Linked DNA regions of Homo sapiens: region 1 is linked to region 2. Evidence: fine-mapped expression QTL. A gene starts in region 2. The other region holds a variant in brackets. All regions are shown on one strand. Distances are from middle to middle.

Region 1 (15,704 bases), 500 kb before region 2:
CTTCCTTTCCCCATAAAAACTGGCACAGCTGTGAGAAGTACTCCAGGGCCCTAAAAAGAGTGACCCTGCTAGGGCAGTGGAGGCTGTTTCCCTCCAGGGCCGGATCCTGGATGGAGTGGGGCTTATGCAGATCACCCTGCAGAGGAAAGGAGGAGGAGGAGAGAGAGACAGAGATGAGGGCCTAAATGTAGATATTGTACCTTTTACAGTTGCAGGTTCAGACTGCACAGTCCCGGACAGATCCCCACTAAAGGGCTGGGTAAACGTCCTGAAATCTCCTCTCAATTTCAGATGCCCTCCTGTCAATCAGCTGACTCCAAGTGGAGCAAAGCCCAGGTCTTGACGTAGATACAGATACCATACATGCCCAGATGATGTCACAAGCAGCTATATGTAAACAGAGCAGAGGTCAGGTGACATCACAGAACAGGCAGAGGCAGTTCAGGGGGTATTCTGGTTGCCTTACCCAGCTCTGAAGTCTGTCAGCCTCTTCAGATGTCACTTGCCCTGTGGTAAGGAAGTGTAGTTGGCAGCTGGTGCAGTGGCAAGAAGAGAAAGGAGGTTCCCCAAGACAGAAATATCTCAGCAGGTAAAGAGAAATTCCCTAGAGCCTCAATCATGGGATCAGCTAGTTGGAAGCAGGTGGCATTCCTGGGTAGTTTCTTTCCCTTCCAGTGAGCAGAGCGGTTAAGCCTTGGTGTGCTTGTGTGTCTGATTGCCCCACTCATTGGAAACCAGACCAATGGTTTCAGGAACTCTGAGTGTGTTCTTCCCCTCTATGTGTCCATGTGTTCTTATCATTTAGCTCCCACTTATAAGAGAACATGGAGATATTTGGTTTTCTATTCCTGTGTTAGCTTGCTAAGAATAATGGACTGCAGCTCCATTCACGTCCCTGCAAAGGACATCATCTGGTTGTTCCTTATAGCTGCATTGTATTCCATGGTGTATATGTGCCACATTTTCTTTATACAGTCTATCGTTGATGGACAATTTAGATTGATTCCATGTTTTTGCTATTGTGTATATTGCTGCAGTGGACATATGTGTTCATGTGTCTTTATAACAGAATGATTTATATTCCTTTGGATATATACTTAGAAATGGGATTGTTGGGTCAAATGGAAGTTCTGTCATTAGGTCTTTTAGGAATCATCACACTGTCTTCCACAATGGTTAACCTAATTTACACTCCCACCAACATTGTATAAGTGTTCCTTTTTCTCCACAATCTTGCCAGCCTCTGTTATTTGTTTGATTATTTGTTATTTGTTATTTTTTGACTTTTTAATATATACGTTCTGACTGGTGTTAGATGGTATTTCATTTTGGTTTTGATTTGCGTTACTCTAATAATGAGCGATGTTGAGAAGATTCAAATAAATGCAATCAGAAACAACAAGGGTGATATTACCACTGACCCCACAGAAATATAAACAACCATCAGAGAATATTATGAACACCTCCATGGACATAAATTAGAAAATCTAGAAAGAATGAAGAATTCCTGCACAAATACACCCTCCCAAGACTGAACCAGAGAGGAACTGAATCCCTGAACAGACCAAGAATGGCTCTGAAATTGAGGCAGTAATAAATAGTCTCAGTGACAAATTTTTAAAATGCCACTTAGAAAATGTACACATAATTTTGCTCTATTCAGCAAATATATCTGTAACAATCACTTTTAGGAAAGGTGTTAAAATATTTTATTATTTTTTCTCATTTAGCTTAACATTTTAAAAATACTTTTCTGCTGGCAACTATTTATATCTCCATTTTCATTGACATAGTCAATAATTTACCCACCTTTCTATTAAATAATAGTGGATCAACTGATGTGCATTATTTTATACTGAACTTTGGCACTCTTGACATAATTCATATACGAATAGTCATCCAAATGTCTTGGCCAGTGAAGATGAGATTTGTCTGCCAAGGTTGAACAGGAGTTTTCCTACCTGAAAGCGGCAAGCAGTACAAAAGCAAGAACATGGTAGATGAAATTCAGGAGTCCCACAAGCAGATGAGGATTCATTTAGGGCCTGAGAAGGTGCAGGGACCCCTCATAGGGGCCTGTGTACCACCCCAAGCATGGAAATAAAGGAAAATCTTGAGTCCCTTCACAGAAATTCCAGGCACCTCTCTACCTCTGAGAAGTACACGAGCCACTGGACAAGCAAGAAGGTAAAACAGTAGCAAGGAATGGAGAGTCATGGGAATATGGGGTTCCCTATGGAAACTAAAAATCAAAGCTTAGCATATGTCCCTGAGTTGTTGTTCAGAAAGCTGCCCCTCTACTAAATGGATCCACTGGCACATAGACCTCAGATAAAGGGGATCTATGAAATGAACTCTGCCATTCTTTATTCTCAATTTCTTCCTGAGTGGCCTATGGAATGTTACGTCTATGAGCCAAAAGTACCATTACTTTCTGCTGATCCCAAATTTTCTGACAAATTTTACTTTCTTAAATAATCACACATCAGAAAATCTCTGAATCCCCCTATGACCTGTAAGCTTCCACTTCAAGATACTTCATCCTTTTAGTCTAAAACCAATGTGTAACCTCAATATATTAATTTATGACTGTGTATTACCCCTCCCCTCTGTGTCTTTAAAATCCCCTACCTGTAAGCTGTCTGGTAGTTTTAGTCTTTATTTTATTTTATTATTTTATTTTATTTTGGGGATGGAGGTTTGCTCTCGTAGCCCAGGCTGGAGTGCAGTGACTCCATCTCAGCTCACTGAAACCTTTGCCTCCTGAGTTCAAGCGATTTTCCTGCCTCAGCCTCCTGAGTAGCCAGGATTACAGGCAGGTGCCACCATGCCCAGCTAATTTTTGTATTTTTAGTAGAGATGGGGTTTCCCCAAGTTGGCCAGGTTCGTCTCGAACTCCTAACCTCAAGCGATCCGCCCTCCTCGGCCTCCCATGGTGCCGGGATTACAGGTGTTGGCCACCATGCCCGGCCTGTCTGTGTGACTTCTTAAATGTTCTTTGATATTCTCCTGCAAACCTCATGATGTTCTCTTGTTTCTCAGATTGTAACGTGTTACATGAATTTATTCTTTCTATCCCATGCTTCCTTTTATTGATGCATTCTGTCCTTTAAGTAGTGCATTTAGAACATTGACATTTAAAGTGATTATTGATATAGTTGGATTAAAAATCTACCAAATTTGTTACCATTTTTCAGTTGTTGATTTGTCTTTGTTCTTATTTTTGTATTTCACTCATTTTCTACCTTTTGTTGTTTTGAGCACTTTATATCAGTTCATCTCATTTCTTAGCATATCTCTATTTTTTTACCTTTTTAGTGACTAGTCTAGGTAATAATTTTATGCTTAATTAATCTAACAAATAACAGCTTGTTAAAAACATTAGTTTGAATATATTTGATTAGATATGGTTAAATATATATCATTGTGTGTGTATATGTATACATACAAACATTTATGTGCATTTATTCTTATGTAAGTGAGATGAATAACTGCAATAGGTGATAGAAGGAAAGAATGTGGGTTATTCTGTTACTGTAAGGTGTTCACACCACATCTTAAGTGATATATTGTTACTTGAAAGGGGGCTTGGATTAGCCAGAATTTTAAATTGCAAACTGTAGGGCAGCTTCAGTTCCTTGCTGGCTGTTGACTAGAGGCTGCATTCAGTTTCTTCCCATGTTGACTTCTCCCATGTGGCAGAATGCTCTATCAAAGCCATCAAGGCAAAGAGCTTGCTAGCAAGACCAAAAAAAAAAAAAAAAATCACAACTTTACGTAACATGATCAGTCGTGTGACATCTAATATTCTTGTATTATTGTGTTGTGTGAAAGCAAGTCACATTTCATGCCCATACTCACAGGGAGAGGATTACAATACAAGGTCATGCACCCTGGCAGGTGGGGATCATTGGGCACCATCTTAAGGTCTACCAGCCACATCAGGTCCTGTCTGATGTGCAACAGTTTCCCAGTCTTCGTTTATCTTGAAGACTCTCAGCTGCTAAGAAAAGAACTGGTGAGGTATTTTATAGGAAGCATCACAATGTGGATTCATCTGATGATTTCTCATTATTTGAATAGAATTATAGACTTATTTTGAACACCTTTATCTTAATTTGAAGACAATAAAAACTGAATATATTATTTAGAAATATAAACATAGACATAAAAATAATACAAAAAGGAAATGACAAATAGGAAACTGAAAATAATAGTAACCTTCATGGGGGTAAAAAATGCCATGAAATTGGGGAGCTGCACATTTAGAGCATCAACAATATTGATAATATTCAGTTTGTTAAGGTCAGCAGTGAATTTTTAAAGAAAGAAAAAAAGCTTTTCTATTTTACGTTAGCTTTGGACTTACATAACAGTTGCATAGTCAGCATGGAGAGTTAATATGCAACCAACACAGAGTTTCCATCATTATTAACCTCTTATATGAGCATGGGTATTTGTCACAATTAACACACCAACATTATGCATTCTCATTCACTGATATCCACATATTAATCAGATTTCTTTTCTTCCTAATTACTGTTTGTTTTCTGTTCTAGGATCTCTTCCAGGATAACACCTTTAGATATCATGTCTCCTTAAGCTTTTTTTGTCTCTGCAGTTTCTCTGAATTTCCATGTTTTTCGTGGCATTGACATCCTCCATTTAGGATTTCTATGATTGTTTTTACTAACAATTAGACTGAATTTGTAGATGTGGAAGAAGAAGAGACAGGAGTGAGTGTAATACTCATTATACCATGGGCATATATTCTCAAAATGCTTTTATCACTATTGATACTAATTTGAGCACCTGGATGAGGCAGTGTGTGTCCAGTTTCTCCACTGTAAAATTAATTTTCCCCCTATCCACGTCGTACTTTTTGAAAAAAACGTCACTATGCACAGCGCATACTTAATATTGGGGAATTATTCTTCACCTCCTTAGGGCAGAACTTGTATAGTATCGTTTGTATTTCATTATCATAGGCAATGTATCTCTTCTCCAGCATTTATTTAGTCAATTATTTATATTATATGGAATATTGGCAAATAAAAAATATTTATTTCCCCTGTGATTAGACTAGTTTATTGTATTGTTCAAATTGTGCTAGTGCTGGTCATTAGAAGGCCTTTCAGTCAGCTGCTTTACCACTTTGAAATACCCATATTATTGCTATTTGATTTGGTTTGTGTGGTGTGTTGTTTGGTTGTGTTGTTTAACTTTTTCTTACTTTCTGGCTCTACAAGGTACTTAAGCTTAATAGTGTTGATTCCCTTCCCAGCCATGCCATTTACCATTTTCCCCCAAATTCCTAGTTCCTTTTTTGGTGAATGGCATTAGAAACAAAGGTCTCGGCAATGGTGTTGTCATTTCTGCCAGGCGTCTGTTAATTCTATGTTTTGTCATCTGACAGAACAAAGGATTATATGTATGTATGTAATTCACACTCACATATGTATATGCATTTCTACAACATTTCTCCATTTATTCCTATGTAAAGTTCAGCATGAATTCTTATTAATGTTTCCAGCACCCATGATCTAATTCAAGACTACATAAATCAGTTTCCCCATTCCCACTACTTGTATGTAACCTCCCACGCTAACAGTGAGATAGTTGGCCTCCTTTATATAATCAATGAGTCCAAAATACATGCAGAGTAGTTTTAGAATTGGTAATTCATACACCCATGGGAAAGAATGTTTCTAACTAAAGAAGAGAATTTATGTACAGATACTTTGACATTTAAACTAAGAATCTCTCCTTATTTTTATATTTCTTAGGTTGGTCCCCTTTGCCCCCAAATGTCTGTTTCTTTTTCACAATATTTTAAATGGAATTGTTTTCTATGTTTTATTTTAGATTAATTGACAATATATAGAAATGCAATTGATTTTTATTACTCTAGTATACTAAAGTGTTACTGAACTCATTTTTTGTTTCTAATCTTCTTTTAGTAATTTCCTTAGGATTTTCTATACATAGGATTATGTCATTTATGAATAGAGAAAGCTTAACTTCATCCTTTTCATTCTAGAAGTCTTATATTTATGTTTCTTGCCTAATTACCCTGGCTACATGTTCCAATACAATACTTAATAAAAGTAGCAAGAGCATACATCCTTGTCCTGTTGCTAATTTTTTGAAGAAATTACTGAAACATTCATAATATGGTGTGTTGTTGTGTGAGTTTTTCATAGATGCCTTTTATCACTTAAGAAAATTTCCTTTTATGCCTAATTTGCTCGGCATTGTTATCATGAATGTGTTTTGGATTTTTCAACTGCTTATTCTGTATCTTTAGAGATAATTATGAAGCTTTTGTCCTTCACTCTGACAATATAGCGTATTACAGTAATAGTTTTTGTATGTTTAACAAAACATATTTCAGGGACAAATGACTTTGCTCATAATGTCTATTTTTATTAGGTTACTGGTTTATTTTGATAGTATTTCCTTCAGAATTTTTGCCTCTGTTTCATGGGGCATATTTGTCTGTAATTTTCCTTTCTTGAAATCTCTTTGTCCAGTTGTGCTATCAGGGAAAACGGGCTTCATGCGGCATATTGGGAAGTGTTCTCTACTCCTCTGTTTTTATTTTTTTTTCTTGAAAGATTAGTTAATAAAGATTGTTATTAATTTTCAAAGGGGTTAGAATAATTCACCAGTGAAGTCATCACAACCTAGAAAAAAATTGAATCCTACCAACACTAACATGAGCTGGGAAAGGGATCCTTCCTCAGGGGATGCTTCGCTTGAAACCTCAGCCTGGGTCATCTGATCCAGAGAAAAGGTTAAGTAATAGTTACGTGTGGGTTTGAACATCTAAGCTGTTCAGTTATATGTTATACAGCGACCTGTAGGTAATATACCTGAGAGTAAATGTAATTAGATTCTAGAAGAGAAAATGACATCAGTGGAAAACCTGGCAAAATATTAAGAAAGTCTGTCTTTCAGTTAATGCTTCAAAACTATTAACTGTATTTCAGGTAATAGTTTTGTACCACTGTCAATTTCTGAGTTTTCATAAATACATTCTGGTTACATGAGTTGTTAACATTTCAGAAAGCTGTAGATTATGTAAAACTGCATTATCTTTGAAACTTTCTGTAAAACTAAAATTATTTTCAAATAAAAATATTCTTAAAATATATTATTTAGGAACAAAAAAAAATACCAACACAGATGGACATAAACAACAAGAAACCTTGGACCAGAGGATGAGTGGAGATGCAGGGAGTGAAAGGCAAAGTACTTGCCTTATTATCCCCATTCCTACACAGGGCACCTGCTTCAGGCTTCAGGCACCTCATCAAGCTCCAGGGACTCTCATCCATTTTCTTCTTTCCCATCATATGCTCCATTACCCAGTCACCAGTTCATACATCAGTAACCACTTTTTCAAAGAAAGGTGCCTGCCCCACATGTGTTAGAAGGCCCTATTTTCAGGCACTTTGTGGTAGTGTCTTTGTAGGATCTCACTAAAGACATTTTGAAAGACATGACTTCCAGACAAGATTGAGAAACACCAGTGATGGGGAACATAAATAATATTTCTACATTAGGAGTGTTTTCTTAGTTCAGAGATTCTCTTGTTCAAGTTTTAAAGTTTTTAAAGCCTTTGAGAATACCCTATGATAATTAAGTTCTTTTTATTATGCAGACTCCATCATGAATTCATGGCACCACACAGTCCCCTGATGCTATAATATCATGGATTTCTTTTGTCCAGTGAGAGGCCCAAAAGCTGCAGCACAGACAATATCATAGTGTAGAAGGTTCACTAGCTATGAAAATAAAAGCTTCTAATCATGGGGTTGTAGGCTGATTCCTGCTTACAGAGACCTGAAATGAACCTTCAGACACCAGGCATATGAAAG[C/T]GAGGCATGTTAGTGATACAGAGTGTGTTGTGCAGAGGTGGAAATAGCCTAATAGAAAAAAGGAAAGAAGAGCACAGTACAACATAGCCCAGCCCACCATGCAGTGATCTAAGAGATGGACACAGGCTCAGTGCAGACTCTGCATCTGTGCTGCTTAAACAAAGTTCTCCACAGCAGGGAGGATTGTCCCCTCATCCCCCACACAGCTCCCCGTTCACAGGCCACACCACTTTATGGGAGGGCACCAGGGTTGTTCCAGGAACGATGTCCACAAAGCTTACTAAGCCATGGGACTGTGTGCTGCACTCCCAAGGACATCCATGAAGTTAGGACTCTTTTTGCTTTTTCAGACCGTGATCATGGGCTACATTCTCCATACCAGCTTCATAGCTCCAGTGAGAAAATAAATTCCTGCACCCAGGAGACGTGGAGTAAGAGATACAGCTGACCTTGACCACATTTCTTACTTCCAAGAAGATTGTAGCAATAATTCAGGTGCTACTATTTGGGACATTTATAATTCAATAAACCTGCTTACCCCTCTGAGCTTACAATTCACCCCATAGGAAGGAGAGCCTCATTTAAATTGATAATCTTAAACTGGGCGTGGTTGTTCACGCCTGTAATCCCAGCAGTTTGGGAGGCCGAGGCGGGTGGATCTCGAGGTCAGGAGATTGAGACCATCCTGGCTAACACGGTGAAACCCTGTCTCTAATAAAATACAAAAAATTAGCCAGACATGGTGGCGGGTGCCTGTAGTCCCAGCTACTCGGGAGGCTGAGGCAGGAGAACGGTGTGAACCCAGGAGGCGGAGCTTGCAGTGAGCCGAGATCATGCCACTGCCCTGCAGCCTGGGGGACAGAGCAATACTGTGTCTCAAAAAAAAAAAAAAAAGGACAATCTTAGTAAATGGAAGTTTGCTCTTTTCATTTCATTATAAGAGGAGTTTCTATAAGGTAAGTGACTTGTCAAATCCCATTTTTCTCTTCATTTCTATGCATACATATGGTCTGTTATGATGTGTACTGTGAAGATCATTCATGACCAAACTGTTCAGGAAAAACAAAATCACCAAGTGGCAGGCCATGAAGGAGATGGAAGTAGATTTGTCTAAGGAGAGACTCATCTCTAGGTAGCAAGAGGGTCAATGAGTTCTGAGTGCCCAGGGTTAAGATAGGAAATGTGATAGACACAAAACTGTGCTACCGTGATGTCCCTGGCACAGAGAACAAACACAGTGCTGAGCACCGAGCTCCGAAACTCTACCACCATAGCATGGAAGTTATGATTTCTCACAAGACAGTAAACCACCTGTGACCACGTTGTACTGAGGCTGGATTGGCCACCAGAATTCTCAGAAAGATGCTATTGAAAACATCTCATTGTCTGACCACATCATGAGGCCTGAACCCAACCCCTCTCCACCCTCTACCCTGAATGGAGAATAAAGCTTAAAAGGTGCATGACTCCTATATTTGAAATTAGGGCTTTCTGTTCACTGAACTGAGCCCTCATAGAAGCTGAAACTCTCAGTGCAAATATGCTCAACATTCTAAATTATAAATTATATGAGTTTCTTCTTCATGCAGTGCAGTCTTCAGGGAACACCAAGGCCTGTTTGATTTTCCAAGTATCAACAAGTGGAGTTGACAAGAGTGACAAATGGTCAGAGCAAAGCATTTCATGATGACTGTAACGTGCCTGCGTCAGCAGCGACTGCTTACAGTGAGATTCACATGACCATCGTTTATGACATAGGAAGAATAAAAGGAGAGGAGAAAAAGATAGGTAGTTGATCGAAATGAAGAACTGGATTTGGAAAGCAACTTCGAATAGTCTCTGCCTATATTTCTGAGATTAAGGCAAACAGTCTCAAGATGAGTATTTCTGTCTTGAGAGAGCTGCACTCTGCAACTCTGTAAACTTTCAAGTAACACTTTACCATTTCTATCTTCCTTCTCCATGGGATCTTCGAGCCATGATTTGTAAAATTACCTATACATCTATGTTGTATTTTTGTAGTATCTGATATTCTCTTGAGGTCTCTCTTGGGACAATGGCTTCAAATTATAACGATGTCCAACAGGACTCCAGGAAATTGGTCCTGGATGTTGACAGTGCACCTTTCATAGGATACTTATTTATCCTTGCAGATGACACAATGCCTAATTGTCCAGTCCTTTACCAGGCATCCTTCTTACTGTAATTTTTTTTAATTTCCATACGTTATTCGGGAACAGGTGGTTTGGGTTACATGAGTAAGTTCTTTAGTGGTGATTTGTGAGATTTTGGTGCACCCATCACCCGAGCAATATACACTGCACCCTATTTGTAGTTTTTGATCCCTCACCCCCTTCCCACCCTTTTCTCCTGAGTTCCCAGAGTCCATTGTATCATTCTTAGGCCTTTGCATCATAACTTAGTTCCCACTTATGAGTGAGATCCTACGATGTTTGGTGTTCTATTCCTGAGTTACTTCACTTAGAATAATAATCTCTAATCTCATCCAGGTTGCTGCAAAAGCCATTAACTCATTCCTTTTTATGGTTGAATAGTAGTCCATTATATATATATATATACCGCAGTTTCCTTATCCACTCATTGATTGATGGGCATTGGGGTTGGATTACTGTAAACTTTTAAATACTGTCAGATGCCCTTATGGCACTTTGCAGAACTGTGACCACTACATTCATATCAAGACAACCACTTTCTAGGAAAACTCTGAATTGGAAAAATGTTAAGTTCAGGTGTGTTGGTCATGTGAGACACAGAGGAGGCCACTCAACAGAGCACATGAGATAATGTAAGCGGTGTATTTCTTACAGGTGAGGTTCACTGGGCACCATCGTAGGGTCTACCTGACACATCAAGTATTCTCTAATCTGCAGATTTCTCAGTCTTCACTTATTTTTTGTGAACTTGACTTTTTTGAAAACACAGGTCAGATATTATGTAGGTTTTCCCACAATATGAATTTGTCTCATGATTTCTCATGATTAAACTGGGACATAAATACATTAAAACCATGCATGTGTGTTTGAAGACAAGAAAAATAAACATTATAGATATTAGAAATATAAACATAGAGGTAAATGTAATAAACACAAATTAGAGGATAACAAATAATTCACAGTAATAGCTATTTTCAGTGATTAAGGAAGATGGTGAAGCTCAGGAGATGCACTATGGGCCATCAAACATATTGCTCATGTTGTTTTATAAGGTCAACAGTGACTTTAAAGATAAAGAAACCTTATAAATTTAAGAATAGTTTTAGGTTTACAGAACAGTTGTAGTACATAGAATTTCCACATATCCTACGAAGTTTCCATTTTTATGAAATTCTTACATTAATGTAGGACATTTGTCACAAGCAATCAGTTTTATAACACTATAACTACTCTTCATACTTTATTCATTTTTTTTTAGTTTTGACTTAATGTCCTGTTTCTATTCCAGGATTTCATCCAGGATACCTCATCACAGGTACATGTCATGTCTCCTTAGAATTCTCTGACTGTCACAGTTTCTCAGAGTTTCCTTATTTTTGATGCCATTAATATTACTAATGTGGGATTTGTCTGATGTTTCTCTAATGATAAGACTGGATTTGTGGGTTTAGGGGAGGAAGATCACGAGGAAAAGTGTCATTTTTATTTATTTATTTAATTTTGAGACAGTGTCTCACTCTCTCGCCTAGCCTGGAGTGCAGTGTCATGAGCTTGGCTCACTACAGCCTCCATCTTCTGAGCTTAAGGATCCTTCCCTCTCAACCTCCAGGGTAGCTGAGACTACAGGTATGTGCCACCAGGCTGGACTAATTTATTGTTGTTGTTGTTTGTTATTTTTTTTGGTAGAGGCAAGGTTTCACCATGTTGCCCAGGCCGGGGTCAAACTCATGGGCTCAAGTGATATTTATTTTGTTATAGAGATGGGGTCTTAATGTGGTGTCCAGGCTGGTCTGGGATTACAGGCGTGAGCCACTGTGCCTGGCCAAAAAGTGCCATTCTCATCATATCATACCAAGAGTAAAAACTGTCAACAAGGGTAGACAGTCATTATTGGCAGAATGTCTACAAATTCCTTTAAACCTTCACCGTAAACATGTGCCTATTCTCTTCCAATTATTTCATGTGTATTAATTTATTCACTTAAACATGCATCTTTTATTTATATCATTATCTAAATATGGAGATTTATTTTACAATGCATATGTGCTATTTTTTTTTTTGAGACAGAGCCTTTCTGTGTTGCCAAGGCTGGAGTGCAATGGTGCGATCTCAGCTCATTGCAACCTCTGCCCCCTGGGTTCAAGCGATTCTCGTGCCTCAATCTCCTGAGTGGCTGGGATTACAGGCATGAGACACTACACCTGGCTAAGTTTTGTATTTTTAGTAGAGACTGAGTTTCACCATGTTGGCCAGGTTGGTCTCAAACTCCATACCTCAGATGATCCACCCTCCTCGGCCTCCCAAAGTGCTGGGATTACAGGCATGAGCCACCATGCTCGGCTGCTATTTTTTTTTTAATTGCACAAATTGTTCCAGTGTTGGCTATTGGAAGGTTTTTAAGTTGTCCCTTCTATCACTTTGAAATACCTGCATAATTAAAGTTTGATGTTGTGTGGTTGGTTGGTTTTGTTGTTGTTTGGCATTTTCTTTTGTTCAGTCACTATTATATGCTCCAGTCTGTGAATTTAATTCTGCTTCAGGGTAATTTGGTAATTTTATACTTTCTGCTAATGTTTCCAACACCATATGACCTAATCCAGGACCATATAAATGGATCCACTCATTCTCATTTGTATGTGATCTAGCACTCCCTGCAAGCAAGTTGATGTTGTTAATTTAATCATGCTACCTGAACAAGGTATATGGCTATGTAGAAAAATAGAAGTTGAAACAGTCAAAATACTGTGTAATTCCATTTATATGACTCTCTAGAAAAGGAAAAAGTGTAGTGATAGTAAAGAGTTCAGTGGTAACAAGGGGCTTGGGAGAGATATAGGTGACATCAGTGAACTACCGAAGATTTCTTTGGGGCAGTGAAATTCCTCTTTGATACTGTAATGGTGGATACATCATAATGTTTTCCAAATCCTGAAGAACTTTGTAACACAAAGAGTGTAGCTAAATTATGCAAATTTAAAAGCTTATTTAGTAGGTAACAAGTTTGCCTTTTCACAGTATTTTACCTTTTCCAACTTATATTTTTTAGCAATATGCTTTTTAGATTTTTGAAGTACACCTCATGGTTTTTAGATTTGCCTTCACCCAATTTTTGTAGGACAGGTGAGTCACAGAATTTTGGCTTATCCTGAGAGGGTTATTAGCTTTGTCCAAGAAAGAATTTAAGGGCTAGTGGGTGATGTTAGACTGCAATATTTTATTGAATGGTACTGCTCCTAGCAGAGCAGGGCTAACTCTTAAGCAGTGTGTTCAGAGTTGGCAACATATAGGCCTCTTGGCAACTGTATTTATATGCAATCAAACCCACTTTTAATTATATGCAAATTGAGGGGCAAGTCAAGGCAAATTGAGGCAGGACAGGGGCAGTGACTTCTAGGTTGTCTCCATGGAAAGGGCAGTAACTTCTGAGTTGTGGCCATGGAATTTGTAAACACTTATGTGGTTGGTAGGAGTGTCTTATGTGAGTGACAAATGAAGACTGCCAGGGATCACATTTACCGCAACGTACAGGCTTCTGCCAGTTTTTTCACTTTATCCTGTCTGGAGCAGATCTTATTTTGGTCATCAAGGTTGTGAAACCAGAAAACAAATCCTTCCAGTCTCCTACCTCATAATGACAAAAGACATTGAGCATATTTTCATGTGATTTTGGATATGACTATGGCTTTCTTTTGAGAATTGGCTATTTAAGATTTTGCCATTTTTGATTGGGATATTTGCCTTTTAAATTTTGAGTTGTAAGACATTGCATATTCTGGATAATAGACCATTATCACCTATAAAATTTGCAATTTTCACATATTTTCTGCCATTCTTTGGGTGCCTCTTTATATTTGATGGTGGACTTTAAATTGCAAAAGGTTTTAATTCTAATGAAGTTTAATATTTCTATATTTTCTTCTTTCCTTTGTGTTTTTCAGTGTCATATCTTAAAACATTGTTTAACCAAAGACCACAAAGATGTATTCCTGTGTTTCTTTTTATGGGTTGGCTCTGTTTAGCTCTTATATTTAGATAGATTGTCATTTTGAGTCAATTATGTTTCTGGTATGAGGCAAGAATCTAACTTGCATGTGGATATCCACTTGACCCAGAAACATTTGACAAGAAAATATTGCTTCATAACTAATTTATTTGGCCACAATATAAAAGCATTTCACCATAAATGTAAGGATTCATTTTTGAGTATTATATTCTACTCCATTGATCAATACATATATCCCTACACTAGTACCACAAATCTTGATTACTATTACTTTGTAGTAAGTTTTGAAATCAGGAAGCATATGTCTACTATGCAAACCCTTTTTGTCTTTCTCAAGAGTATTTTGGCTGCTCAGGATCTATATTATATATAAATTTGAGGATAACCTTCTGAATTTAGGGGAATGTTTTGAGAGAAGTTGCATTAATTCTATAGATCCATTTGGAAAATATTGCCAACCTAACAATATTAACCCTTGTAAACAATGAGCATTCAAAGATTTTCTATTAATTTTGTTCAATATGTGTTATATAGTTTTTAGTGTACATATCTTATACTTAATTTGATAAGCTTATTCCTAAGTATTTTTGATTCGATCTCAATTGGAACGGTTTTCTGAGTTTTGTTTTTAGATTGTTAATTGCTAGTATAGAGAAATTTAAAATATTTTATATATTTTATATACTGCAAATTTCTTTGAACTCGTCTTTAAATTCTAAACATATTTGATTAGAATTCTTTGGACGTTTTGTACATACGATCATGTCATTTGCAAACAGTCAGAGTTTGACTTCCTTTCCATATTAGAAACATTATATTTATTTTTCTAAGCCAATTGCCCTGTCTACATTCTCCAGTACAATGTTGCAAACTAGTGTCAACAGTGGAAATATTTGACTTGTTTCTAATATCAGAGAAATTAGTGAACCTTTCAGATTACTTATGATGATATGTGAGCTTTTCATAGATGCCCTTTGAAATGCAGAAAGTTCTCTTATCTGCCTAATTTGCTGCATGTTTTTATAATATGGAATCTGGGAATTTTCAAGTGCTTGTTGCATACCTTCTGAGATGATTGTGTAGTTTTTATTCTTTATTAATATAGTGTATGACTTTAGTTGTATCCTATATTGAACCAAATTTGCATTCCTGAGGTAAATACCCTTTACCATAGTGTATAATACTTTCTACATGTTGCTGATTTCATTTGATAATATCTCGCTGGTGATTTTTGTCTCTGTATTTATAAGGCATATTGGTCTTCATTTTCCTTATTTGAAATGTCTTTGTGTAGTTGTTCAATCAGGGTAAACTAATTCATAGTATACAATGGGAAGTGATCTATTTTCTACTTCTTTATTATTATTGTATTGTTTTGAAATATTTTTGATAAATTAGTATTAATTTTATGTGATTTTAATAACACATCAATGAGTTCCTGATGAGGGCAGGGAGGTGAATCCTAAGAACAATCATGTGAGTTTGGAAGGAGACCCTTCCCCAGCTGAGCCTCAGCCTGAGCCATCACCTACATCTAGACCGAAGACCCAGAGAAACTGTGAGTAGTATGTGTGTGGTTTTGAGCCACTAAGGTATGTGGTAATTTGTTATGCACCAAGTAGTAAGTAATATACCTGACAGTAA
Region 2 (15,704 bases):
GGCAAGCCTTCTGGAAAAATCAAGCTGAAGAAATCTTAATTGCCCAATGTCCCTTATCTGTTTCAATAAGTATAATTATATAATATCAGAATTCTTCTGAGTGACAGAGAAAGGCAGCCTGGCTGAACATCCCCATGGCCATAATGCAGATATGATGGTCTCCAGCTATTTTAGAAAGACTGGAGCCTACTATTCCCATTACTTATCTTAATAGAGAATAACATTTAATATTCTCTATGTTTTGTGCTGGATAAATCTTTTTCCCTTTATTAAAATGAATGACCCATAACTGAGTCTGTAGTTTGTACATTGTTGGAAGCTGAATAAATCTCTGTGGGTTACCAGAATCTTATTAATAAGTCACAGCTTTCTAGGGAGGATCTGCTCAAAAACTCAAAGTTTAGTTTTACATTTATAACTAAATTATGATACAACCTTGAGCAAGTTAAGCTCATCTGTAAATGAAGAATACTGATACTTGCTACTTCAAAGGGCTCTTGTAAAGCGTTCAATAAATTAATAGAGGTGTATACACATGCATATATTTTAATACTTACACATACTTTAAAAGAACCCTACATAATCCACTACAAAAATTTTGTGATGTGTCTCCCTAAACTAGTTCCCAACTACCCTGTTAAAATTATTTAAATGAACAAAAATCTATATATTAAGATACACATCAGAGAACTCCAAATACTGCTTCTCACAGTACCCTGTCCCAGCCATGCTGCCTTCCTCTTCACACAAATCTTCAATTCAGAAACCCTAGGGATTAATTCACTAATCAACCCACACCTTAATTCATTCAAGAAAATTATTGATACCCTACTAAATGTCAGGTACTGGTTTACAGGTATATTCAAGGAATATTAGCGAAAAAGAAAAAGTAAATATTCCTACCTTCTATTTGGGTGGGGGGGAGTAAACAAATGAATATGCAAATACATAAACATAAGTGTACACATGTAAATTAAATTTAAATAAATAGGTAAAATAAACAGTATATCAGATATGTCCTAGAAAGAAATATAATGCAGGGAAGGGAGTTGAAGAGTGTCAGTTGGTGTGGGGGTTGCAATGTGAAATTATGTGGAAGGTGAAATTTAAGAAGAAACATAATGGGATCCTAGGAAACAATGATGTGTATGTCTGGAAAATGAGTGTTAGAAAAGAAATGGTAAAGAAAACAGTCAGATGGGACAGCCATGGGCAAAAGTGTTCATATAGTATTCAGGTAACAGAAAGGATGATGTCACTGTGTAGGGGAAAGAGGGATCAGAGTGGAAAGAAGGAAATGAAGTCAGAAAGGAAATGGAGAGCTCAGATTGCTAGGGTTTTGGAAGCATTTTGAGTACTTTGGCTTTTGCTTTGAGTAAGCCATTGAAGAGGCTTGGGTGATATTATCTGACTTACGTTTCAACAGGATCTCTCTTGGAGATCATTTTGATTAGAGACTGTAGGAAATTAAGGACAAGATTGGGGAGACCAGGCTGGGCACGTTGGCTCACACCTGTAATCCCAGCACTTTGGGAGCCCAAGGTGGGTGGATCATTGAGGTCAGGAGTTGGAACCAGCCTGGCCAAGATGGTGAAGCCCCATCTCTACTAAAAATACAAAAATTAGCTGGGCATGGTGGCAGGTGCCTGTAATCCCAGCTACTCAGGAGGCTGAGGCAGGAGAATCGAATCCAGGAGGCGAAGGTTGCAGTAAGCCGAGATCGCGCCACTGCACTCTAGCCTGGATGACAGAGCAAGACTCCATCTCAAAAAAGAAAAAAAAAAAAAAAGATTGGTTGATTCAAACAAGCGATTTACTCAAAGATGTGCCTTCTACTCAGTAAAGACATAGATCAGGGGTTAGCCAAAAATGACCCACAGATCATTTTGTATGTCCTGTGAGCGAATAATGATGATTACATTTTAAAAGTGTTCCTGAAGAATAAAAGGGAGGAGGTAAAAGAGGAGGAGGAAGAGGAGCTAAAGAAACTGCATTTGGCCCACAAAGACTTAAATATTTAAAACCTAGAAAATGTTTGCCAAAACCTGAAATAAAGCATCTGACTTTTCTTGAGGAAGTAGGTCCTCAATAAAATTGGAAAGAGGAATACATGAGTAAATTAGTTGCTGAAAATATTGTGAAGTAATAGATATCGAGAAATATCTATGGCTTCATCCCCACCCTCAAAAACAATGCCATTCATTTCCATTGAGCTAATGAAAAATGCAGTTTGGTTTTCAAAACAGTTAACCAAAAAACACGGTCTTACATAAAAAAAATCATAAAATTTATATAGCAACAAAAAAGCATTTTCACAGAAATTAAAATTTTACAAAGCATTTCTATATCGATTATGTAATTTAATCTTCCAATCAACTCCATGGGATAGGTACTATTTCCCCATACAGAAATTACCATATCCTAAATCCTTAGTGATTGATTCCTCAAGAAAAATTAAAGTCTTGAATGCTACATCTGTTAATACTAAGGGTAGTTTTCTCCTATGGGAAGGTTGGCTTCTAGAATGAACAGGAACTTTCAGTTCAAGGTGACAGACCAGGAACACATATTTACTTTGTGTTCCTCCTGAAATTGTACTTAAATAAAAGTATACAAATACCAAAATGTAGTAGACCAACGAAAGCCAAGAGATTGTGGAAGTCATCAACCACAGAAAGGTGTTGATACATTTCTGAAAAGCAAAAAGTTAACTGGAGAGGAAATAGATGAAACAACCAAGGAAAGGCTACTCTAAGAAGTAGCAGCACAAAGTCTGTCTGTCCTTGCTGAGCCCTGGTTACAGTAAAGGGCGGAAGAGTGTGGACAAATGTGAATCTGAAAGAGCCAATTCTTCTAAATCAATCCTGTGTGGCTAACTGGGCGTAAATTTAAAATACAGCCCAGCAGCCATTTGCTGACTAGAGTTTATACCTGCACTGGCCAATTGGAACTAAGCCAATGTCTTTCTTTCTCTTTTTCTTTTTTTTTTTTTTTTTTTTTTTTTTTGAGACAGAGTCTCACTCTGTCACCCAGGCTGGAGTGCATTGGCATGATCTTGGCTCACTGCAACCTCTGCCGCCTCACCCAGTGAAGTAGCTGGGATTACAGGTGTGCACCACCACACCCAGCCAATTTATTTATTTATTTATTTATTTTTGTAGTTTTAGTAGAGACAGGGTTTCACTGTGTTGCCCCGGCTGGTCTCAAACTCCTGATCTCAAGTGATCCATTCACCTGGGCTTCCCAAACTGCTGGGATTACAGATGTGAGCCACCACAGTGGGCCAGAACTAAGCCAGTTTCAAACCTTCATTTGCCTAAAGAAACTTATGTGGGAACCTGGACAGCGAACTTTTGCTATAAAACCCAAGTCTTCCCTTTGTTTTCTGGAATGCACCTTTGTTTTGCAACAGAGGATGCAAACAGTTCACTGGAATAAAGTCTCTTTCCTCCACATTCCTTTTTCAGATAACTTTTCTTCACGAGAGAGGAGACTGAAATTATTTTAGGGAAAAAAGTTCATTTAATGAGGTTCATGAGTCAATAAAGTCCAAAGGATTCAGTGTGTCCTCACATTAACTCTGTATGACTTACAGTGGGTTGTTGGTGAAAGTGTTCAACTATAGGGTGCTAGGTATGGTTTATTGTCACTACCACAATTCTATACAAAGCTAGCCACCCAGAGATTCATTTGATATGACTGGAGATTGGTGCTTTAAAAAATTATTAAATTACAAGTAATCTCACCTGGCAACTATAAATTGTTGCTATTATCACAGTATTTATATAATTATTAAATTAAATTTTTGGAAAATATTTTGCCTTGACAAATTTCATCTCAACATGTTTGCGTCTGCCAAGTCAAAAGATCTCAGAATAATCAGTTGCCATCTAATGTTATTTTGCCTCACAAACACAAGGAAGATTTTATATTCAAAAAAAGCATCTATTCCCATTTGACAAGAAAAATAAAGAGGTGGATTTTTCTGGAATACCCTTGTCCAAATTTCCTTTTATTGTCCTGAAGCCCCAATATTCATTATTTGTTTAATGCATTTTTCCTGTTTGGGGGAAAATGCTGTAATTTATTGTTTTCAAATAAGCCTGACATTTGATTTTGTTTCAGAGTTCTTGTAGGAAATCTTTGTCCAAAACTTGTACCAGATTGTTCTTTTTGTTTAAACAAATAAAATCAAGAGATTATTTTTTATTAAACTCTCCTCAAATGATATCAAGAGATTACAGTTAAATGCCATAATTGTAAACAATTTCTCGGTTCCCTGAGAGGTTAGGAAGGACTTATAATATGTCTCCTCTTTTTAAACAGAATTTGGGTCTGAGCAAAACTTTGTGTCCTAGAAACATAAGCTTTGTTGGGTATGGAAGCCCACATTTACTCTGACATAGTATAAAATATATGAACAGGGGGATAAAAAGGATTTTGTAGTATGTTAACTAGGTTTGATGTTATTTTAAATCGATTTTTAAACTAAAAAATACATTAAAATATTTTTACTGATCTCTGATTCTTGGTTCTGAACCTTCCACATGTCCTATGTCTGGCACACAACATTAGCCCAAAGAGAGCAAAGCAGTCCAGTTAAATAAACCAAAGAAACAAGATTAAAACTAGATAAGGTCATGTGTAGGATTTTCCAAATCTTTCTTGTCATGCTGAAACTTCCAGCTCTTAAAACAGTAACACATATTTCCTTTGTCCTAAAAACCAATATTAAGTCTCCTTCCTTGGGCATAAGAATATGGATAGTTATACTTAGGTGACAGTAATGTGTGGTAAAGAGTGGGCCTTGCTGGCATGCGGACAATGACCAAATTGTATTGATCATATTTTAATCGAATACATTGCTCCACTACTGACTTGCAAATACATGATGAATTTGCTTTCTAACATATTCCAAGAAGGCCAGAGAACTGGCTTATCCATTTGGATTAATCCACTGGTGAATTTCTTTCGGGATAGGCCAAAATGGATCTGGACTATAATCTTTACATATTTAGATCCTTCAAACTAGACCAAAAAGGAAATCTGGGCTGCAAGGCTCAATTAGAAGAACAGTGTGGGATGCTGCTTTGCTGACTATTGGGGGTCGCTGCCCCATGTCTTCAGAGGAGACTGGAGCCCAGTGCCTGCCATGACCAACTTATGAGGTGAAGTAAGGGCTTCCCCCTAGGAACGCATGTGCTTAATACAGATGTGCTGTGTGCTAGGTACCCTAAGGACTACAGGAAATAATGAGAATACATGATGTGTCCATAACAAGGAGGCACACAGGCCACGGCACCAGCTCTGGAATCACACAGCCCAGGTTCGAAGCCTGGCTAGGCCACTGTCATATCAATGACCCAAGGAGCAAGCAGCCTAAGGCTTAAATGTTGTTGCTGTTGTTTGTTGTGGTTTTTTGTTTTTGTTTTTGTTTGAGACAAGAGTTTTGCTCTGTTCCCCCAGGCTGGAGTGCAGTGAGGTGATCTCAGCTCACTGCAACCTCCACCTCCCGCTTTCAAGCGATTCTCCTGCCTCAGCCTCCCTAGTAGCTGGGATTACAAGTGCGTGCCACCACGCTCAGTTAATTTTTGTATTTTTAGTAGAGATGGGGTTTCACCATGGTGGTCAGGCTGGTCTCGAACTCCTGACCTCAGGTGATCCACCCGCCTTGGCCTCCCAAAGTGCTGGGATTAAAGGCGTGAGCCACCGCGCCCAGCCTTAAATGTTGTTTAAAACAAATTTGTGAAAAGAAGTGAAGAGGCCCTGCCTGCCAGGAAGAGATGTGGTAGGGCGTAGCATCTAGTCAGGACAAGGCACCACGTCCCCTCCTCGGAAACCCTCACGGCCTGGCTGGTGACCCTGGCGCCACAGAGACGGCACACCTGGCTCCAGGCAGCACAGAGCACTGCCAAGGTCCTAGAGGAGGCTGGCAGGATATAGGTTGTCCTGTGCTTAACTTGAAGCAGATGTGCCCTCTGTGAACCGGGGAATGGGGACGGCCGACACAGGGCCACTGCGTGCAACAGCGCCGGGCCAGGGCTAAGGAACAGGCAGAGCCGGCGCCCAGGTGACAAGAGCTCTGGCGATGGGCCCGCAGGCCCCAGCAGTTCCCTCATAGAGGCCACGCGGTGCAACACCTGCCACCGGCAGCGGGGCTTCCGGGGGTCCTGGGGCAGCTGGGGCCGACGGGGCGTCGCCCTTTGCCCTCTGACCCCTGCCTTTTGCGCCCCCGCTGGCGCTCCCTGGTTCTGTGAGGAACCTCGCGGCGGCGTCGCAGGCGTAGAGCCAGTCAGTTTGTGCTTGGTCGCCAGAGGAGGCGGTGGCTGAGGAGAGTTGAGTCCACTGCTGACCCTGTTTTACGGTAGGAGGCACGGCTAGCTCTAAATGGGCAATTTACTTAGTAAATTTAGACCCGGGTGCCGCCGCCGGCCCCTGCCAGGGCCAGGGCGTGGCGCCCCCGCTCCCCTGTCCCGGGACGCCTCCCCGCCCGGTCGGGCTCACTCTGTACCCACCCCGCGCCCTTTCCGCGGCCTGTTCCGCCGGAACGCCCGTCGCAGGCCTTCAGCAGCCAGCATCTTCGTCGCCCCTAAGAGGCCGTGTCCTCTCCCTCGGGCTGCGGCCGCCCCTCTGGGGGTCCTGCCGGCTGTGGGTTGGGGGCTGGCCATCAGGAAGACACCCATGCTGCCTGCTCGGAACCCCCCGAGGTTTGGACACCCCAGTTCCGTAAGGATCCCTCCTCCCAGCCGCATGTTCACTCTCCTGCTGCCTTCACCACGTGAGCCGGCGGTCAAGGCCAGGAAGCCCATCCCAGCCACTCTCCTGGAGGAGACCGAGGTGTGGGCCCAAGAAGGGCCCAGAAGAGTGAAGAAGGATGAGGATCCGGTGCAGATCGAAGGGGAGGATGACGAGAAAAGGACCCCCCTTAGCAGCGGAGAAGCATCGTCCACATCCAGGTCCCAGGGCACCCAGGGAGACGTGGCCTCCTTCAGATGCAGCCCTGGGCCTCTGGAGGGAAATGTCTACCACAAGTTCTCAGAAAACAGCATGAGTGAGAAGGCCCAGGCGTCTCCAGCGAGCTCCTGCTTGGAAGGCCCTGCCATGCCCAGCACACACAGCCAGGCCGGATGTGCCCGGCATCTTGGAAAGCCTGATCCGGATGCAACAGCGCCCCCTGAGCCAGCCGTTGGCTGCTCCCTGCTGCAGCAGAAGTTGGCTGCGGAAGTGCTGAATGAAGAGCCACCGCCCAGCTCCCTAGGCTTGCCGATTCCGCTGATGTCCGGAAAGAGGATGCCTGATGAGAAGCCTTTCTGTATTCCTCCAAGGAGCGCTGCTCCTCCCAGAGCTGCCCGCAACAGGCCCTGCAAAAGGAAAATGTCGATTCCATTGCTGCTGCCGCTGCCCCCTTCACTGCCATTGCTGTGGGATCGAGGTGAGCTTCCCCCACCTGCTAAGCTCCCCTGCCTGTCTGTTGAGGGAGACCTACACACCTTGGAGAAGAGCCCTGAGTATAAAAGGAATAGCAGAATCTTGGAGGATAAAACAGAGACCATGACAAACAGCAGCATCACCCAGCCTGCCCCTTCTTTCTCCCAACCTGTGCAGACCACAGACTCCCTGCCCCTGACCACTTACACTTCCCAGGTCTCAGCTCCTTTGCCCATCCCTGACTTGGCTGACCTGGCTACTGGACCCCTCATCCTGCCTATCCCTCCACTTTCCACCACACCAAAAATGGATGAGAAAATAGCATTCACAATCCCTAACTCTCCTCTGGCTCTTCCTGCTGACCTTGTTCCCATTTTGGGTGATCAGTCTAATGAGAAAGGAGGCTCTTATAATTCAGTCGTAGGAGCAGCGCCTCTCACTTCTGACCCCCCAACACCTCCTAGCTCCACACCCTCCTTCAAGCCTCCCGTCACAAGGGAGTCCCCAATATCTATGTGTGTGGATTCCCCTCCTCCTCTTTCCTTCCTGACTCTTCTTCCAGTCCCTTCCACCGGGACCTCAGTTATCACCAGCAAGCCTATGAATTCCACGTCAGTCATTTCCACTGTCACAACAAACGCATCTGCCCACCTAACCTCACAGACTGCGGTAGACCCTGAAGTAGTTAATATGGATACTACTGCCCCATCTCAGGTTGTTATTTTCACATCTTCCCTAAGCTCCAGAGTGAGCTCTCTCCCAAATTCCCAAATACATTGCAGTGCAGAGCAGAGGCACCCGGGAAAGACATCAGTCTACACATCCCCACTTCCATTTATATTCCACAATACCACCCCAAGTTTTAACCAACTCTTTGGAAAAGAAGCCACCCCTCAGCCCAAATTTGAGGCTCCTGATGGGCAGCCGCAGAAAGCTTCTCTCCCCAGTGCCTGTGTTTTCCTGAGCCTTCCCATCATTCCTCCTCCAGACACCTCCACTTTAGTGAACAGTGCCTCTACAGCATCATCATCCAAACCTCCCATTGAAACCAATGCTATGCATACCACTCCTCCTTCCAAGGCTGTCATCTTGCAGTCTGCCTCTGTCTCCAAGAAGTACCTCCCATTTTACCTGGGGCTTCCTGGTTCTGGGAACACACAACCCAGCGGCAACACTGCCTCAGTCCAAGGCTCCACCAGTTTGCCTGCACAGTCAGTCAGGGCACCAGCTACAGCTTCCAACCATCCTTTAAATCCAGGAGCCACCCCTCAACCCAAATTTGGGGCCCCTGATGGGCCGCAGCAGAAAACCTCTCTCCCCAGTGCCCATGATTTCCTGAGCCTTCCTATCATGGTTCCTCCAGACACCTCCACTTTAGTGAGCAGTGCCTCTGCAGCATCGTTATCCAAGCCTGCCATTGACACCAGTGACATGAATACCACCCCTCCTTCCAAAACTGTCATCTTGCAGTCTACCTTTGTCTCCAGGAAGGAGGAGTACATCCGATTTTATATGGGGCTTCCTGGTTCTGGGAACACACTACACAGTGACAGCATTGCCTCAGCCCAAGTCTCCACCAGTTTTCCTGCACAGGCAGATAGGAGACCAACCACAACTTCCAGCCATCCTTTAAATACAGGATCCATCTCTCATTCCACACTTGGGGCCACTGATGGGCAGCAGAAGTCTGACAGTTCTTTTATTCTGGGGAATCCAGCAACCCCAGCACCAGTTATAGGCTTAACATCTCCTTCAGTCCAGCCACTGAGTGGCAGCATAATTCCACCAGGTTTTGCAGAGTTAACATCACCATATACTGCATTGGGCACACCTGTTAATGCTGAGCCAGTCGAGGGTCACAATGCAAGTGCTTTCCCCAATGGCACAGCAAAGACTTCTGGATTTAGAATTGCCACTGGGATGCCTGGCACTGGAGACAGTACCTTACTGGTTGGAAATACTATTCCAGGCCCACAAGTGATTATGGGACCTGGAACCCCTATGGATGGTGGGAGCATTGGGTTCAGCATGTCTGCCCCAGGCCCCAGTTCCACATCAGGAGAACTCAACATTGGACAAGGACAGAGTGGGACACCCAGCACCACTTCTGTTTTCCCATTTGGTCAGGCAGCCTGGGACCCAACTGGCCACAGCATGGCTGCTGCACCACAAGGGGCTAGCAACATTCCTGTATTTGGATATACTTCTGCTGCCGCCTACATTCCTGGTTTAGACCCACCTACCCAGAATTCATGCAGTGGTATGGGAGGGGATGGCACCAGATCCATAGTTGGAGGCCCTTGTGTTCCTGCTTTTCAACAGTGCATCCTGCAGCACACATGGACAGAGAGAAAATTCTACACTTCAAGCACCCACTACTATGGACAAGAAACATATGTTAGGAGACATGTCTGTTTCCAACTTCCGTAAGAGCACCTGTGGTTCACCTGATCACACCACATCAGTTGTGGTTGTAAATACCAGCATTATCCTTTTGTATGGTCATGCTTCTAGTTTCATCTTCATGCCAAGCACCTGCCATGTACCTCTCCAGAACTCAGGTTGTGCACCAGGAGGGGACAACAACATCCCTGTGCTCCCTTTCTCTGTCAGTACACATGGGTCCCACCTGGACAAAACACAGGTGGTGCATCTGCAGTGAATGGCAACATATCTTTAATTAGAGGCCCTTGTGTATCCACCTACCAACAAAGTACCTAGGGCCCACCTGGACAAAACACAGATGGTACCTCTTCCAGGAGTGTCAACATTCATTTGATAGAAGGCCCTCATGTGCCCATGTATCAGCAAAGCACCTGGGGCCCACCTGGACAAAGCACAAACCATGCAATGAGGGACAGCAACACAACGGCTGTGACTGGTTGTACTTTTGGTCCCCCATTTACACAAAGCACCTGAGGCCCACCTGGCTAAATGCAGGTGGTGCAATAGGAGATAGCCCCAGATATTTGTAGGGAGAAACCTCTAGTCTCCCTTTCAGTAAAAATACTATGGACCTGCCCAACCAAGGTGCTCCTTTTGACTTTAGAGGAACCAGCATTGTTTTTGTTTTGGTTTGTTTGTTTGTTTGTTTGTTTGTTTGTTTGTTTTTGAGACGGAGCCTTAGCCCAGGCTGGAGTGTAGTAGCACAATCTCGGCTCACTGCAACCTCCACCTCCTGGGTTCAAGCAATTCTCCTGTCTTAGCCTCCTGAGTAGCTGGGACTACAGGCATATGCCACCACACCTGGCTATTTTTTATAATTTTAGCAGAGACAGAGTTCCACCTTATTGGCCAGGCTGGTCTCAAACTCCTGACCTCAGGTGATCCACCCACCTCGGCCTCCCAAAGTGCTAGGATGACAGGTGTGAGCCACCATGCCCAGCCTAGAGGAGCCAGCATTGTTAGTTAAATACTTGTGTTTGGATGGTCCTGGTCAGAGCACCTGTGCCTGTGATGGAAAGCAGCCACTAGTGACACTTGTACCTGCCAAGGCCTTCATAGGAGCCACCAACTCATTTTTTACTCCTATCAATGGTCTTAAGAAATAAGCACTCTCCCTGCACATACAGTTCTCATAAATTGACATTGTTCCAGGAGGAATGGGCTCAGTTCCCTCAAGGTTAAACTTAACCTGCTCTCTTCCTACAGAAGCTGGAGGCCCAAAACCACAGACAGAGAGAGAGAGAGTGTGTGTGTTTGTGTGTGTGTGTGTGTGTTTATTGGTGAGTGTGGAGCAGATGAGCCCAGTCAGAACCGCACTGTATTTTAGTGGTCTTCTGCACTGTGGAGGGTAGAGGAAACCTGGCTTGACTGTTAACTTGGCTGACCCTACCTCTGGGCCAGTTCTCTCTAGTCATGGACAGAAAGGCAAAATTCCCGACTTTGTGGACCCTATATTCTAGTTGAAGGGGAGAAAAGAAGCAAAAACATGGAAATTATCTGGTAAATTAGCCAGTAACGAATGCTATGAAAAATAAAGAAGTACATGGAGGATTGAGATTGTAGATAGAAGCAGGTGTTTCAGTTTACACTGTGAACAAGCCTCACTGGGAAGGTAAATTTAAACGAAGCCTAGAGAGAAGCAGTTGAGCCAGATATATGAGCAAAGACCTTTCCAGATAATAGGAGTGGTCATTGCAGAGGCTCAAAGGAAGGATCCCTGGTGTCCTCATGGAGCAGTTAGTAAGGAAATGTGGCTGGAATGGAGTCAGCAAGTGGGAGGGAGGGATAGAGAAGAGGACAGAGGAGAGATGTGAGTGGAATTCCTTCCTCCACTTTTTACTAATTGTGTAATAACAGTTGACTCAAACTTCAAAAGTCTCAATGAAATCAGTACTTTTACTATGGCCTGTTTATCTCATAAGATTTTTGAAAGGATAAAATGAAATAATATGGAGAAATGACTTATAAGCTTTTGTTGTAATTTGTTATATACATAGGGATGGATAGACGGATGGATAGATTAGATGATAGATAGATAGATAGATAGATGATAACGTTATGGACTGAATGTTTGTGTACCCCCAAAAATTGATATTTTGAAGCCTAACTTCCAGTGTGATGGTATTAGGAGGTGAGGCTTTGGGGAGGTGATTAGGTTTAGATGAAGTCATGAAAATGAAACCCCCATGATGGGATTTGCGCCTTTATGAGAAGAAATACCAGTGCTTTCTCTAATTGCCATGTGAAGGTATACCAACAAGGTAACAGTCTGTAAGCCAGGAAAAGAGTCCTCACAAGAAACAGAATTTGTCTTTATCTTGGACTTCCTAACCTTTAGAATTGTAGAAAATAATTGAATGTTGTTTAAGCTACCAGTCTGTGGCATTTTTTGTAGCAATCAGAACTGACTAATAAAGATAGATAGATGATAGATAGATACATAGATAGATGATAGAGATAGATGATAGATAGATAGATAGATAGATAGATAATATACATATATATGTATGGTCAATGACTGAGTTCCTTAGGCAATGGTGCCCTGATTGCCTTTATTAGGCAATTCAAATAGAAGAATAGAAGAACCCCCTTTTTTTTTTGAGATGGAGTCTTGCTCTGTCACCCAGGCTGGAGTGCAGTGGCGTGATCTTGGCTCACTGCACGCTCCACCTCTCGGAAGAACCCCTTTTTATTAGCATAAAAGCACTTACTTTTATGAAGCAAACACATGTAAAAATATGATAACAGAGACTAAAACATTTATGAGATTAGGCCTGAAAGAAAACAATCACAGAGAAATTACTGAATTCCTCTTGGCACCCTGGGGCCTGATTCATTCGCTCTAAATTGTTTAGTACAGTTCCAGAGGATCAAAGCTCCTGTTTCCTGGCCAGATAATCACCTAACTTTTGTAATCAGAACTGCCTTTCAGAAGTAGAGTGGAAATCCAGTTTTCTTCTAATAGCCCTATACCCTTGCAGTATTACCAGGGACAAATTTTTTAAAATTCATACTTCTTGACATTTTTTAAAAGGCTTCAAGCTAAATATTATGATCCTGGTAAGACAAACTTTGAATAAATGTGTGAGAGATACAAAGATAATTTTTGTTTTCATGTTTTGATGCACTTACACAACTGAAACTATTTCTAAATATTCTTTTATTTTTTATTAAGATAAAAAGCAAACATAATATCAATTTAAATAATACTGAAAGTCAACCTTCCTACCACAGTTCCCTCCTCCAGAGATAGTGTTTAGCTACTTTGATGTCACTCCCATAGTTCTGAGTTTGCTTTTTTACTTCAACTATTATGTTATCTTACAGATGTCATTGTTTTTCCTAAAACTTGAAGTGCCTTCCTTTTTTTCTCCTTGAACTCTTTTCCCATAAAAAAAAAATGTTTTTGGTTTCTAGAATTTTCAAATAGTATTGTTTACTTGACTGAATCCCTTCCTTTTCCAGAAACCTTGAGCCTCCTCCACTGGTTTGGGAGTGGTAAGACCAAAGTAAATGTAAAAAGTAAAGTAGAGGTTCCTCTTCAAAGACTTTCCTCCCTATCTAATTAGAAATAAGTAGTAACTTCTTTTAGAAGCAAAATGTATTCACAGACCTGTACTAACATTCTTAAATATCTGCTAGTCATAATAAAGAAATCAATGTACTTTATGTTCTTAGCTCCCACAATTTAGCCTAAGTATTTGCCCTGGCATGCTTATACTGGTCCAAGCATTAGGTCATAGCCTGTTCCTCTTCCTTATTTAGAAGTGTTTTTACCTTTCTCAGCATTCCACAAGTTACTTCCTCATTCCTTTGTTCTCCTCTACCTTTGCCTCTTTTAAAAGTTCTAAATTGCTAGCCAATCGGGACAAATACAGAATGTGAGGTCCTGTTCCAGCCAATGGAAACCGGACACAGCAGTAGGGTGGACGCGTCAGGTTATAAATGACCCTGTCTCCTTTGTTCGGTGTACTCTTGTGGCAAAACTGCTGGCAAGTGTACCCTTTCTGCAGGAAGTAAAAATGGCCTTACTAAATAAATTTATGTTCAAGTGCTATTTCTTTACGACACCGAGGAACAAGCATTTCAAACATAAGGACATGGTCTCAGAAGAAAGAGGCCTAAAGGAGCCACCCAAACTGCTTTTAGTTTAGCCCAGAAATGCTCACTAATCAATAATTTTTAAAAAATGTCTAATTCTGGCTGCATCATCCTAATTTCCTGAATCTATGGTAGAGCCAGGAATCTGGATTCCAGGCAGCACTCTAGGGAGGTATGATGCAGACAGTCCATGTTTCCTATTATTCCAAACACTGCTTCACACCTTACATGAGAGCTCACCAAAGTCCTCATTCATCTCATAAGATAAAAAAATTTGTATAGGATGTGGTTCCAAAGCCCTAATTAGTAATAAGCAGAGTGTTTTCCTTACATCTGTGTCTCATGAACTAGAAAATGGCCTGCGGAAAATTTGAGAATTTCCAACTCATGGATGCATGTCTTTCTTGCTCTAAATATCTTCATGTTAGAGGTCTAGAAACTGCCCCCAACTGTGAGAACACTGTCCAGGGCCCCCTTAACCAGTCACTGCTGTGATCCCAGGGTTATGTGATGCAATGAGGGCTTCCCAAACAGCAATTCATTCTTTACCTGAGGCAGAGCTGGGAATGGCTCTCTCAGAAGTCCCAGGACAGGAATATCATCATCAGATGTGCCTTCCAGATAGGAAAATTGAGGCTCATAAAATCAAATATTTGCTAAGTTTTACAGCCATGATCTAGATCCTGGATTTATCCAATGCATGAAATGGGGCATGGGAGGGACTAGAAAAAAAGAAGCCAAACAAAATCTCTGCTAAAAAAATTATCTGTCTTAGGTAAATAGTACCTTTGCTTTAAATGCATACTAAGCTGTGAATGACTGATATCAGAGACTTTCTTGGAAGTAGGTTTCATAGGATGGAGGACAAATGAAACTTTATGGGCGAAGAAAGAAGGGTCAGTTGGGTGGTGCATTGAAGTAAGTGGTTCCAAAAGCAAACTAGGTCAACTTTTTAACTGGCTAGTGAAAATGAGATTCCTCAGGATACAAAAGCAAGGAGAAGACAGGAATAAATCAGGACTCCAACAGGCAGAACAGGATTTATTTAGGGCATGCAATGTGGAGGGCCCTAATGGGAACATGACAGTGTTGAGAGGAGCACATTCTCTTGGGAATGAAGCATTCCTGCAGGGAGAGTCTCTGAGACTTCCTAGCATATGTCTGCTATGCAGGTAATTACATTGTCAATCTAATGGTTTAAAAAATATTCTGGTGAGGGGAAGCATTAGTTCAAGACATGTGAGATGTAAGCAATCAACAGACCAAAAACATTGATACTTTATGGGTGTCGTAACTCCATATTACTAAATGGCCATGTTTTGCCATCTTAAAGCTACAGGGGTTCTGGGCTTCAGTACTATATGCAGAGAATATTAACACCAGACATTGGTTGTTTAAAAATGATTATCAGGCTGCGCACAGTGTCTCATGCCTGTAATCCCAGCACTTTGGGAGGCCGAAGCGGGCAGATCACCTGAGGTCAGGTGTTCAAAACCAGCCTGGCCAACATGGCGAAACCCTGTCCCTACTAAAAATACAAAAATTAGCTGGCCATGGTGGCATGAACCTGTAATCCCAGCTACTCCAGAGGCTGAGGCATGAAAATTGCTTGAACCTGGGAGGTGGAGGTTGCAGTGAGCCAAGATCAAGCCACTGCACTCCAGCCTGGGCAACAGAACAAGACTCCATCTCAAAAAAAAAAAAAGAAAAAAAAACTTGTCATCCTTACT

Direction of the effects. Positions count from the first base shown, and alleles are read on the strand shown. Sizes are in standard deviations (SD) of each study's normalised expression.
As copies of T replace C in region 1, the expression in pancreas of the gene that starts at base 6,295 in region 2 goes down (moderate effect, 0.48 SD a copy in GTEx).

Evidence for each region.
Region 1: its variant is fine-mapped to the expression of NPAP1 in pancreas (GTEx, PIP above 0.99).

The regions. Positions count from the first base shown.
Region 1 is chr15:24,169,573-24,185,276 of GRCh38, forward strand. All of the region lies in intron 2 of LOC105370732 (a long non-coding RNA gene), which reads right to left. It overlaps PWRN2 (Prader-Willi region non-protein coding RNA 2), which reads right to left and starts at 376. Exons shown (of 2, transcript NR_152824.1): 1 at 201-376. It also overlaps a transcript of LOC105370733 not described here. The variant C/T (reference allele first, on the strand shown) is at 7,884.
Region 2 is chr15:24,669,481-24,685,184 of GRCh38, forward strand. NPAP1 (nuclear pore associated protein 1) reads left to right here and starts at 6,295. Exons shown (of 1, transcript NM_018958.3): 1 at 6,295-13,913. The coding sequence starts at 6,388. The coding sequence ends at 9,858.